Linked DNA regions of Homo sapiens: all the other regions are linked to region 3. Evidence: fine-mapped expression QTL. A gene starts in region 3. Each other region holds a variant in brackets. All regions are shown on one strand. Distances are from middle to middle.

Region 1 (4,164 bases), 34 kb before region 3:
GGGTTCAAGTGATTCTCCTGCCTCAGCCTCCCGAGGAGCTAGGATTACAGGCAGGAAAACAACAGACCACACCATGGTTCCACTGGGGCTTGAACCCAGGACCTTCTGCGTGTAAAGCAGATGTGATAACCACTACACTATGGAACCACAGGCTAGCTGAGTTTCAAAGCTAGACTATGAGGCCATGAGGCTGGGCACAGTGGCTCACACATGTAATCCGAGCACTTTGGGAGGCCAAGGTGGGTAGATCACCTGAGGTCAGGAGTTCGAGACCAGCCTGGGCAACATGGCAAAACTCCGTCTCTACTAAAAATACAAAAAAAATTAGCCAAGCGTGGTGGCATGTGTCTGTAGTTCCAGCTACTTGGAAGGTTGAGGCAGGAGAATTGCTTGAACCAGGGAGGCAGAGGTTGCAGTGAGCTGAGGTCGTGCCACTGCACTCTAGCCCGGGCAACAGAGCGAGACCCTGTCTCAAAAAAATAAATAAATAAATAAATACATAAATAAAGTTAGGCTATGACAGGCAATATGGCCTTGCCTGGCGCTCCCTCCCTCTCTCTCAGCTCACACCAGCCCACATGGAGAGACCGAGGGAGAGGCCCATGTGAGGAGGAACTGAGGTCGTCAGCCAGCAGCATCTGCCAGACATGGGTGATTTCAGCCTTCAAATCTTCCAGCTGCAATCCCCAGTCCCTGGGAGCAGAGACAAGCCATCGCTGCTGGACCCTGTCTGAATTCCTATACATAGAATCCATGAGCATAACAAAGGGCTGCTTTACACGGCTAGATTTGGGGGTAATTTGCTGTGCAGCCACAGTACCTGGAACAAGAGGACAATGGCTGGAGTTGCCTAGTGGCTGTCGGTGGGCTTGTTGAAAGTGGACCTATTTGAGATGCTGAATAGAAATTGAATTAACAAGATGTAGTCATGAAAGGGACAGAAAATGTCTTAATTATAAAAAAATTATAAAGACCCAGCCAGGCGTGATGGCTCATGCCTGTAATGCACTTTGGGAGGCGGAAGCGGGCGGATCACCTGAGGTAGGGAGTTTGAGATCAGCCTGACCAACATGGTGAAACCCCGTCTCTACTGAAAATACAAAATCAGCTGTGCGTGGTGGCGGGCACCTGTAATCCCAGCTACTCAGGAGGCTGAGGCACGAGAATTGCTTGAACCCAGGAGGCAGAGGTTGCAGTGAGCCGAGATTGTGTCATTGCACTCCAACCTGGGCAACAAGAGTGAAACTCCGTCTCAAAAAAAAAAAAAATAAATAAACAAATATAAAGATACAAACCAGGCACGGTGGCTTACGCCTGTAATTCCAGCACTTTGGAAGCTGAGGTGGGTGGATTGCTTGAAGCCAGGAGTTTGAGACCAGCCTGTCCAACATGGTGAAACCCCGTCTCTACTAAAAATACAAAAATTAGCCAGGTGTGGTGGCACACACCTGAGTGTGTGTGTACCAGCTTCTCAGGAGGCGGAGGCATGAGAATGGCTTGAACCCAGGAGGCGGAGGTTGCAGTGAACCGAGGTCATGCCACTGCACTTCCATCCCCAGGGAGGGAAGGAGCAAAAGAAAACTAGGAAAAGGGGCTAAAAATGGTGCTTGTCTCACTGCTTTCTTCAGTTGAGCTCTTCTTGGTCTTGTGCTGGTAACTTGATGATTTTCATTCGCCTTTGACGACTCAGCCCATTAAGCCAAAGAGGCTCACCTGGTGCTACTCAGCCTGGGTGACAGAGGGAGACTATGTCTCAAAAAAAACAAAAAACAAAAAATACAAATAAAGATATGAAGGAAGGCCCAGTTAGAATACATTTTTGAAAATACTTCTTTACATTTTTAATGACGCATGCATTTCATATTGAGAGCTTCATTCTTTCGGTTTAATAATTTGATCCTTGTTAAAATGCAGACAATTGGCTGGGCATGGTGGCTCATATCTTTGGGAGGCTGAGGTGAGCAGATCACTTGAGCCCAGGAGTTTGAGACCAGCCTGGGCAACATGGTGAAACCCTGTCTCTACTAAAAAAAATACAAAAAAATAATTAGCTAGGTGTGGTGGTGCCTGCCTGTGGTCCCAGCTACTTGGGAGCCTGAGGTAGGAAGATCGCTTGAACTCAGGAGTCAGAGGCTGCAGTAAGCCGGGATCACACCCCTGCACTCCAGCCTGACAGTGAAATCCTGTCTCAAAAAAAAAAAAATGCAGACAACTCAAGGATTGATAAAATTTGAAATTTTTTCATTAACACCTTAGCATGAATGAAGACTGAAACCTAGTTTTCTTTTTGATAAAGACAATGGAGGCGTCCAAGGGCTAAGGACATACATCCCCAGGGAGGGAAAGAGAAAGAGAAAAAGTAGGAAAAGGGGCTAAAAATGGTGTTTGTCTCA[C/G]TGCTTTCTTCAGTTGAGCTCTTCTTGGTCTTGTGCTGCTAACTTGATGATTTTCATTCGCCTTTGACGACTCAGCCCATTAAGCCAAAGAGGCTCACCTGGTGCGACTGTTACTCACAATGGCTCACACGTGTTGGGTGCACGTGCTGGGCCAAGCATCATGCACGCTGTAAGGTATATAGATGTGATTTGGTCAAGGTAGAGACCGAGGCGGATATACAGGCCTGCACGGCTCAGTGAGTTTGGTGCGCAGGCGCACACCTCCGCTTGTTACATAACCTGTTTGTGTAAGTTCATACTTGGCTCTGAGCCACTATTGTCTGTAAAAGGTATAACTGCCCTGCTGACGCCGTACAGGTGCTTTTGAGGCTCAGCTTGGCTCGACATGGCTTGATGTGGTGGGTGCGCTGGCGCCCAGAGAAAGGGAGACAGCCAAAGCTGTCCATCTTGTAGACAGACAGGAGGGAGCCAGGACACAGCTCTGCTTGCTTGTGCCAGAGAAAGAAAGAGTTAAGCTGCTGACCCTGAAGGCAAGGGAGAGCCGGGGGTCACAGGAGCCACAGAGCCAAAGCAAATAGCAGAGATAAAGGTGGACAGGGTGAGAGAGCTAATGTGAGTAAGCTGCTAATAAAAAGCCATTGATGAGAACTGCTGCTGAATAAAACCATATTCACCTGCCTAGGCCCCCTGCACCAAAGCGTTTCTGCTCATCCACCCCACTCACCTTGGACTTCAGCATGGGCTGGACCTGGACCGGGGTCTGACACACACCAACTCGGTTAATCCTCACAGTAAACCTGGGAAGGAGGTGCCATTTTGCCCATCGTTTACCAGGACACTGAGAGGCAGGGAGTGTGACCTGCATGAGGTCACTTGGAGCATCACTGTAGGGGACTAACACCCTACACGGCTATGCGGCCTTGTTCTCTGCTCCGAATGCCATCTTCACAGATTGTTCTCATGTCCCTTACAACTGCGTATCTATAAATAAGTGGATTTGCTCTCTGGTCTCTAAGACTTTAAAAGCTAAGGTTAAGGAGTGTGTGTGTTAGGGGAAGGGTGGGGACAGCAGCAAAGACTTGCACAGATAATTGTCCCCAAATAGTCTCAATGAAGGCACCTCTGATAAGGGCATATGGCAAAGCCCTGAACCATCCCTAAATTTCAATTTTCTTCTAGCAGTCATATGACTGATCTATGGTCAGGAGGATGTGAACAGAAATGATCTACATGCCTTCTGAAAAAAAGGGGGCATGCATAGCCTCCCTTTCATTCTTTTTTCTTTTATATATTTTTTTTATTTTATTTTTTTCGAGACAGGGTCTCACTCTGTCTCCCAGGCTGGAGTGCAGAGATGCAATCTCAGCTCACTGTAATCTCTGCCTCCCGGGTTCAGGCGATTCTCCTGCCTCAACCTCCCAAGTAGCTGGGAGTACAGGTGTGTGCCACCATGCCCAGCTAATTTTTGTTTGTTTGTTTTGAGATGGAGTTTCGCTCTTGTTGCCCAGGCTGGAGTGCAATGGCACGATCTCGGCTCACTGCAACCTCCGCCTCCCAGGTTCAGGAGATTCTCCTGCCTCAGCCTCCCGAGTAGCTGGGACTACAGGCATGTGCCACCATGCCCGGCTAATTTTGTATTTTTAGTAGAGATGGGGTTTTTCCATGTTGGTCAGGCTGCTCTCCAAGTCCCGACCTCAGCTGATCCACCCATCTCACCCTCCCAGAGTGCTGGGATTACAGGCAGGAGCCACGGTGCCCAGCCTAATTTTTG
Region 2 (4,164 bases), 20 kb before region 3:
GTAAAGTTTGCTAAAATTTAACAGTGTAACATGTATTATCCTAACCTCTAATCTTATGGAAATCAGACCCTATCAGCGCCCCTCAAAGCTCAAGTCCATCAGTGCAGAGCCATCCACTAATACCCCTACTTATAGGGTTAGGAATGGCCACTGCTACAGGAACCGGAATAGCCAGTTTATCTACTTCATTATCCTACTACCACACACTCTCAAAGGATTTCTCAGACAGCTTGCAAGAAATAACAAAATCTATCCAGTAAGGATAGTAACTACGATCCCAAATAGACTCTTTGGCAGCAGCGACTCTCCAAAACTGCCGAGGCTTGGACCTCCTCACTGCTGAGAAAGGAGGACTTTGCACCTTCTTAGGGGAAGAGTGTTGCTTTTACACTAACCAGGCAGGGATAGTACGAGATGCCGCCTGGCGTTTACAGGAAAAGGCTTCTGAAATCAGACAACGCCTTTCAAACTCTTATACCAACCTCTGGAGTTGGGTGACATGACTTCTCCCCTTTCTAGGTCCCGTGACATCCATCTTGCTATTACTCACCTTTGGGCCCTGTATTTTTAACCTCTTTGTCAAATTTGTTTCCTCTAGGATCGAGGCCATCAAGCTACAGATGGTCTTACAAATGGAACCCCAAATGAGCTCAACTAACTTCTACTGAGGACCCCTGGACCAAACTGCTGGCCCTTTGACTGGCCTAAAGAGTTCCCCTCTAGAGGACACTACAACTGCAGGGACCCTTCTTTGCCCCTATCCAGCAGGAAGTAGCTAGAATGGTCATCACCCAATTCCCAGTAGCAGTTGGGGTGTTCCGTTTAGAGGGTGGGTTGAGAGGTGAAGCCAGCTGGATTTCCTGGATCAAGTGGGGACTTGGAGAACTTTTCTGTCTAGCTAAAGGACTGTAAATGCACCAATCAGCACTCTATAAAAATGCACCAATCAGCGCTCTGTGTCTAGCTAAAGGATTGTAAACACACCAATCAGCACTCTGTAAAATGGACCAATCAGCAGGATGTGGGTGGGGACAAGTAAGGGAATAAAAGCTGGCCACCCCCAGCCAGCAGCGGCAACCCACTCGGGTCCCCTTCCACGCTGTGGAAGCTTTGTTCTTTTGCTCTTCATAACAAATCTTGCTGCTACTCACTCTTTGGGCCCACGCCACCCTTAAGAGCTGTAACATTCACTGCGAGGGTCTGCGGCTTCATTCCTTAAGTCAGCAAGACCACGAACCCACCAGGAGGAACAAACAACTCTGAATGTACCATCTTTAAGATCATAACACTCACCGCAAGGTCTGTGGCTTCATTCTTGAAGTCAGCAAGACCAAGAACCCACCAGAAGGAATAAATTCTGGACACAATACCACAAAAAGACAAAGAAAGCAAAGGTGCGGGAAGAAACTTTTGGACAAGTTTGTCCAACCTGTGGCCCAGGTGGCTTTGAATGTGGCCCAACACAAATTTGTAAATTTTCTTAAAACATTGAGATGTTTTGCGATTTTTTTTTTTAAAGCTCATCAGCTATCTTTAGTGATAGTGTAGTTTATGTGTGGCCCAAGACAATCATTCTTCTTCCAATGTGGCCCAAGGGAGACAAAAGATTAGATACCCTGCTTTTGGAGGCGAGGGATGTGTTTATTGCCTTGGCCGTGGTGATAGTTTCCTGGGAGCACAAATATGTCTGAATTAATCAAACTGTATATATCAAGGATGTGCAGCTTTGTGTACCAATTATACCTCAGTAAAACCATTACAAAA[A/C]GGAAAAGAACAAAGGAAATGCAAATTCCTAGAGTCCACCCTGGACCTACAGGCCCAGCTCTCTGGGGCTGCCCAGCCACCTGTGTCCAGCAAGGTGGGGGCCTGAGAAGCACTGCCCAGGCCTTTGCTCCCCTAATGGACTATTTCACCCTTCCCTAACTCGTCAGACCTCCCATACCACATCCTCACTCTCAGCTGATCACCTGCTTTCCTATTTCACTGAGAAGTCGAAGCACCTAGAAGACAGCTTGGTGTTTCCCAGCACCAAGGGCCCCAGCTCCTGCTCAGCACCCTTCTGCTCAGCTTTCCCTCTTGAGGCTGGGGAGGAACCGGCAGGGTGAACGCGAGTATTTCTCCTCATGCACAAGAAGCTACTCAATGCAGCAGCTATGGCCGCCCCTGGGAACTAGCTGGAAGCAGCTGGGGGTTGCTGGGGGGAGGGGTGGGTGGGTGGGAATCTGCATCTTTAATAGTTTCTAATTTCAACTTTTATTTTAAATACAGGGGGTACATGTGCAGGTTTGTTACCTGGGTATATCGCGTGATGCTGAGGTCTGCAGTAAGGATCGCATCACTTAGCATGGTATCCAGTAGGTAGTTTTTTTGACTGGCCCCCGCACCCCTGGACTCTCTCCCTCTGAGAATCTGCATTTTTCTTTTTTTCAGGATCCCTAGGTTTGAAGGAATCTGCATTTTAACAAGACTCTAGTTGCTTCGTACAGACATTAGACTCATTCCTCCTCCTCACTTTCTGTTGGACCATTCTCTCAGCAATCTGTAAACTGTAATCTGCTCCATTAAAAAAACCAAAACATCGATCCACATCCCTCTCCACTGCTTCATTTGCAAGCTCCAGGTTCTGCCTTCCCATTCTCTCTCAAACCTGCTCTGATCTTTGTCCAGCTCCTCACCGACCCCTTCACGGAGGCCCCCAGTGCACCTGCGCAGTGAGGTCAGCTTCGCAGGGGCCCCCAGTGCACCCGCACAGTGAGGTCAGCGTTGGCTCTTGGCCTCTCTTCCCTGCGACTCTGCCCGGGCACCAGCCAGTCCTCATTCCCTCCCTACTGCTTTTTTTTTTTTTTTTTGAAACAGGGTTTTGCTCTGTCACCCAGGCTGGAATACAAAAGTGCAATCATAGCTCACTGCAGCCTTGACCTCCTGGGCTCAAGGAATTCTCCCACCTCAGCTTCCTTGGTAGCTGGGACTACAGGCACACCACGCCCAGCTAATTTTTTGTATTTTTTGTAGAGGCAGGGTCTCACCATGTTGTCCAGGCTGGTCTCAAGCCATCTGCCCGCCTTGGCCTCCCAAAGTGTTGGGATTACAGGCGTGAGCCACGTGCCTGGCCATTGCTATTTTTAAAATGTTGTTTCAATTACCCCCAGGGTGTCACTCCCCTTCAGGATGCTTTGGGCCTTCCAGAGTAGGAAGAGTAACAAGAGACCTGGTTCACCTGTGGTGAAGCCAGGAGAGGTGTCATGTTGGTTGAAATGCCTGCAGAACCCTCCTGTTGCTGTGCTCAGGCCAGAAGCTGCACAGAGCATGGGCCGATAAATGCATCCACTCCCCGTGCTTTCCCAGGAGCGCCCAGGCCTGTCCTCAGTATCAAGTCAATCACATTTTCAGCATGGTAGGAGGAGGCAGGTTCTGCAAATGCTGCAGGGTGGGTTAATCACACAGGCCAATCAAGTCCCTGTCGTCACCACGATTGGCAGAGGCCAGCCCTCACTCCCATCTTGTTTCCTTCTCAGTAAAAATCATGTCACGCAGCCAGGCTTGGTGGTTCACGCCTGTAATCCCAGCACTTTGGGAGGCCAAGGTGGGCGGATCACCTGAGGTTGGGAGTTCGAGACCAGCCTGACCAACATGGAGAAACCCTGTCTCTACTAAAAATAGAAAAATTAGCCAGGTGTGGAGGCGCACGCCTGTAATCCCAGCTACTCAGGAGGCTGAGGCAGGAGAATCGCTTGAACCCGGGAGGCAGAGGTTGCTGTGAGCCGAGATTGAGCCATTGCACTCTAGCCTGGGCGACAGAGCTAGACTCCAACTCAAATAAATAAATAAATAAATAAATAAATAAATAAATAAATATCACACCACATCACTCTTTCCAACTGAAAGAGTGTAATTTAAAAAAGTGTAAAAACTGCCAAATGTAAGTCCACATTATTATCCATTCTTGTAGGAAACGTAATAAATGTGCTCCACAAATCCCCCACCCTCCTAGATACTGGCATTGAATGAGGCGCCCACGTGGGCTCTGCCCTGAACTTTTCTTCCTTCTTGCCCTTCTTCTTTCCTTCATGCCTCTGAGAAGGAAACTCTCCTTCTGCATCTGGAGCTGAGCTCCCCAAGGGCTTCTAAGCCTACTTCCCACACCTTCCGAAGAGCCTTATCCCA
Region 3 (4,164 bases):
GACTCTGGAGCTCCCCAGTAGCTGGGATTACAAGCAGCCGCCACCACGCCCGGCTAATTTTTTGTATTTTTAGTAGAGACGGCGTTTCACCATGTTGGCCAGGCTGGTCTTGAACGCCTGACCTCAGGTGATCCACCCGCCTCCGGCCTCCCAAAGTGCTGGGATTACAGGCGTGAGCCACTGCACCCGCGCCCCCGCCCCCACCCCCTCCCCCCCAGATGTTCTTATTCTCTGCCTTCTGTTTTCCAAAATCCTCCTTTCCCCTGAAGGTGACCTGAACAAGATGCGGTTGGGCAGTGCTGGGTGAAGCAGCCACATGTGTGTACTGCTCACCTGCAGAGCTGTAGGCTGTACCTGCAGTATGCAGAGGAGTCCTTCTAATTTTGCTCTCTGTCTTCCAGGCACCTGGGCAAACAGTGAGCAGGTACTGGAGGATCAGAGGGTCGCCTTCTCGACTGGCAATGTGGAAACTGTTCCAGCCATCTTTGTTCTTCAGGAGTGGATTGGCGCCATGTTCCACCAGCTCCTGGATCACCCCCAGGTTCTTCCTTGTGCAGGCCATCATCAGAGGAGTCCTAAGGCCAACCAGGAGAAGCTGTCAGATGGAGGCAGCTGAGACATTAGAAGCCAGGGGCCAGGTCTTCAAAACACACACATCCTTGGCACAGATGGAAAACCTAGAGGATTCAGGGGTCTGGCAGGCAGGAAAACAGCTTTGACCGGCAACCTCTGTGCCTTCTGTGAGGACCCTGGGAGAAATAATAAGGGGAAAATGATTGTAACGAACGTGTACCTAGAGGAGAGGGTGCCTGGGAGACAAAGCAGCTTATAAGCTAGTTCACAGGATAGCAGTGAATTGGAGCAGAGCTAAGAAAACCCACAGACAACCCTCAACACATAACGAAGTCTATTCCCCTGCCCCAGTGGGGAAGATGTACTTCCCTATGTTCCTAAAGATGTTCACGCCCTCTAACGAACCTGACCTAGTGAGTACTAAAATCAGTGTCAATCTAACAAACGAAATGCAATTGGCTTGTGTGATGGTGGAGCAGAGTATCTCTGACTGTGGTGGTTATGCAAGGCTGCACGTATGTGATACAACTGCACTGTGCTCTACACACACGAGCGCGTGTATAACTCAGGAATTCTGGATATTGATTGGAGCAATGCCACTTGAAACAATGCATTGGTGCAGAAGTAACTTAGCTAAATGTCCCCAGAACATCGCATCCGGAGGCTATCTGTATAGTGCACACACTTCATTGTTTGGTAACATTCTCTTTGGTTATATTCTACACTATTCCGTGCTCTAGAAAGGGAGGTGACTGCCCCGACCAGTTAACCCACAAGGGCAGGAACGAGGGACTCTGCAGGTCATCTGCGTTATAAGGGAAAGTTGGGCAGGAGGTCCCTGCCGCTGAGCAGGCCTGGGGTGAGAACTAGGAGCTGAGAACAGCTACGGTGTCCAAGGGGACGGAGAAGCACAGGGAACTCGCTACGACTCTGCGAGTAGAGGGGAGGCGGGGTGTCTTTCCGCTCCACACCTACCAGTCGGCCTTCTTCAGGCAGTCGACCGCTGCCCCCCGGCCCAGCAGGTAGCGCACGCAGTCTCGGTGGCCCATGGAGGCCGCCTCGTGCAGAGGCCGCTTGTAGTCTCGGTTGGTGGCCTCGATGTCCATGCCCCAGGCCTCGGCCAGATAGGCCAGCACGTCCCGATGCCCGTGGCGCGCGGCGCAGTGCAGGAGGGTATCCCCGGCCGGCCCCGGGCAGCCCCCGGCCGCCTGCAGCTCCTCCTTCAGGGCGCGCAGCCGGCCCTCCTGCACCAGCCTGCAGAGGCGCCGCGGGTCCCCGGGCTGGGCCATCGCCGCGGGTCGGGCCGGGCTGCGCGGGGAGGCGGCGGGCGGGACACCGGCGGCCGGGCAGGGAGAAGCCGAGGGCGAGTGGGACTTTCCGCCTCTTCACGCAACCTGCCCCGCGCGCCCCGAACCCGGCAGAACCGCCCCTCACGCCCCCGGCTTTGTCCCCGGCAGAGCCGCCTCCTCAAACCCCCGGCCTAGTCCGCAGGCGGGCTGCCCCCTCACAGCCCCGGCCTGCCCCGCGTGGGAGAAGCCGCGGTTCCGGGCACGGGGCGGTTTTTCCTCAGGGACGGAGCGGTCCGGGATGAGCACGGAGGGGCCTGGGGATCCGAGAGCGCTGGCGTCCGCCGTCCTGGAGCTGCAGCGGCCCGTACGTGATTCGGGACTGAACACGTAAGGGAGTGGGGCGCGCCGCTACACCGCAAAGCCCCAAAGTGGAGGGTCCGGGAGGGCGCGCACAGCCTCGCCCGGCGCCGTGCAGGGTGGCTCCTGAGGCAGCCAGGCCCAAGCGTGACCTGCCCCGCACGCGTCCTCAGGGCCGCCCCAGCCTCCAGCCCCTGGGGGCCGGCGTTCCTGGGCTCCGCCCCCGTCCCCGCCCCTCGACCGCCGCTGCTCCGCGGGGACTCGGGGAGCTCGAAGGAACTCTGGGAAAGTTTCCCGCTCCGCCCCGGCCCGAGCGGAAGCGCGGATGGGGCGTGGCCCGGTAGCTGTGGCCGCGCCCCCACCGATTGCGCATTTCGATTGGCGTTAGTGGCCGTCCGTCAGCACGCCCCCTCCGGTCTCGCGTCCCGATTGGTCGCGGGGGCCGTCAGTCCGGCTCCGGCGGCGGGCGCTTCCCGGGGCTGCGGCGGGGCGGAGCTCGCGGAGGAAGTCGGCGGGCGTCTCGGGCTCCAGGTCCCGGCCAGAGGAGGAGCTCGCTGCCGGGGGACGCTGGGCTGAGCGGCCGGCGGCGCGGGCCCGGCGGCGGCGGCAGCGGGGTCCGGGTCCGGAGCGCCACAGTGCGTGAGGCCGCAGACGTGGCAGGGAGTGTGGGAGGGGCTCCGCCGTGTGGAAAACTTAACCTCCGGGGTCCTGCGCGGGGGGTCCGGGCCCGGGGTGGGGCAGCGGGGGCCCCGGGGGCGCGAGGCTGGGCTCGGGCAAGCGCGGGCGTGGGGGCTCGGCCGTCCGGGCCGTGGGCAGGTGGAGGGCGCGGCGGGGGTGCGCGGGGGAGGCCAGGGCGCTCACTGAACTCGGTCGGGAGCGGCCCCCGCGCTGCCCCCCGAGGCCAGGAAGGCGCAGCGTGTGGGTCCTCGGGGCTGAAGGGGCAAGCGCGGGGACGTGGCCTCGGCTGCTAGGAGGCCAGGCTTTCCCGTCTACTCTGACGTTTTGACCTTGGGCAAGTCATTTTTCGCTGCCCTCTGCCCCTGTGTCATCGGTAGCTTCTCTGCCCCTCCTCTGAGCATGGGAAGCCTAAGGCGATGTGGGAGGCCTGGCGCTGGTGGAGGGCACGGCGAGAGCTGGGCAGGCTGTGGGTGATGGAAGAGATCAGTAGGTGTTGGGTTCCTTACCCGATCTGATTAGGTGCCAGTCACTTAACCTCTCCATGTTTTCGATTCCTTTAGGGAGTAGAATGGGAGTAGCTCCTATTTGCCAGGCCTAAAAACGAGTGCCGTTTACATTTTTTATTGCAGTCTGTGGTCCGAAGACAACCCTATGAGGCATCAGTAGGGTTTTACAGGTGGGGAAGTGGAGGCCTAACCAAGTCAGTGACTTTCTTACAGAATTACAGGTAATAAAGTCTTCTGGAAGGCAGGATGGTAGCATGTGTTGAGTGTCCGCCAGCGTCTGCCGCTGTGGTAAAATGAGCGGAGATAAATGAAAAGACTTCTGGAATGGGCCCATGAAGATAAGTCCGTTTTACTCATGAGCAGATTGAGTTTGGTTAAGGTAACAGTGATGTGGATAGCCTCTGGAGACAGAACTAGTCCAAGTACCAGCTTTGCTCAGGTTATTGTTCTGTCGTGCCTTGTCACTCCAGCAAAAGAAAAAAAGGAAGGCATAAAAGTTGTTTGAAATGCACAAAAGTGTAGGGCGTGCCAAGCAGTGTTCTGCTGCCGTTGAAGTTAGTGCAAATTGGAAGTTGAGGCATCTGGTAGCTTCATGCTTTTTGCTTTTACCCCTGCCCCTCTCCCAGTTTCAGATGACTATCTTCTCTTGCATTATGTCTCTAGTTTCCCTGTTTTTTAAACATAATTGGGACACACGGGTTCACAGTAGGTTGGAATATATATATATATTTTGAGACAGAGTCTCGCTCTGTTGCTCCGGG

The links. PIP is the estimated chance that this variant, and not a neighbour inherited with it, causes the effect. A credible set is the group of variants that fine-mapping cannot tell apart.
Region 1: its variant is the best candidate, but not a certain one, in a credible set for the expression of ANKRD16 in whole blood (TOPMed, PIP 0.67).
Region 2: its variant is the best candidate, but not a certain one, in a credible set for the expression of ANKRD16 in whole blood (INTERVAL, PIP 0.85).

What each region holds. Positions count from the first base shown.
Region 1 is chr10:5,853,637-5,857,800 of GRCh38, forward strand. It overlaps TRV-TAC3-1 (tRNA-Val (anticodon TAC) 3-1), which reads right to left and starts at 147; the gene lies at 75-147. RefSeq lists a silencer at 1-196. The variant C/G (reference allele first, on the strand shown) is at 2,394.
Region 2 is chr10:5,867,573-5,871,736 of GRCh38, forward strand. The region is part of intron 7 of ANKRD16 (ankyrin repeat domain 16); the gene reads right to left. Among named protein-coding and RNA genes, the nearest start is that of TRV-TAC3-1, 16 kb to the left of the region's middle. The variant A/C (reference allele first, on the strand shown) is at 1,765.
Region 3 is chr10:5,887,493-5,891,656 of GRCh38, forward strand. ANKRD16 (ankyrin repeat domain 16) reads right to left here and starts at 2,401. Exons shown (of 8, transcript NM_019046.3): 1 at 1,549-2,401; 2 at 355-575. The coding sequence starts at 1,862. FBH1 (F-box DNA helicase 1) reads left to right here and starts at 2,751. Exons shown (of 21, transcript NM_178150.3): 1 at 2,751-2,854. The coding sequence starts at 2,854. RefSeq lists silencers at 1,684-1,963, 1,974-2,083, 2,224-2,943, 3,134-3,183.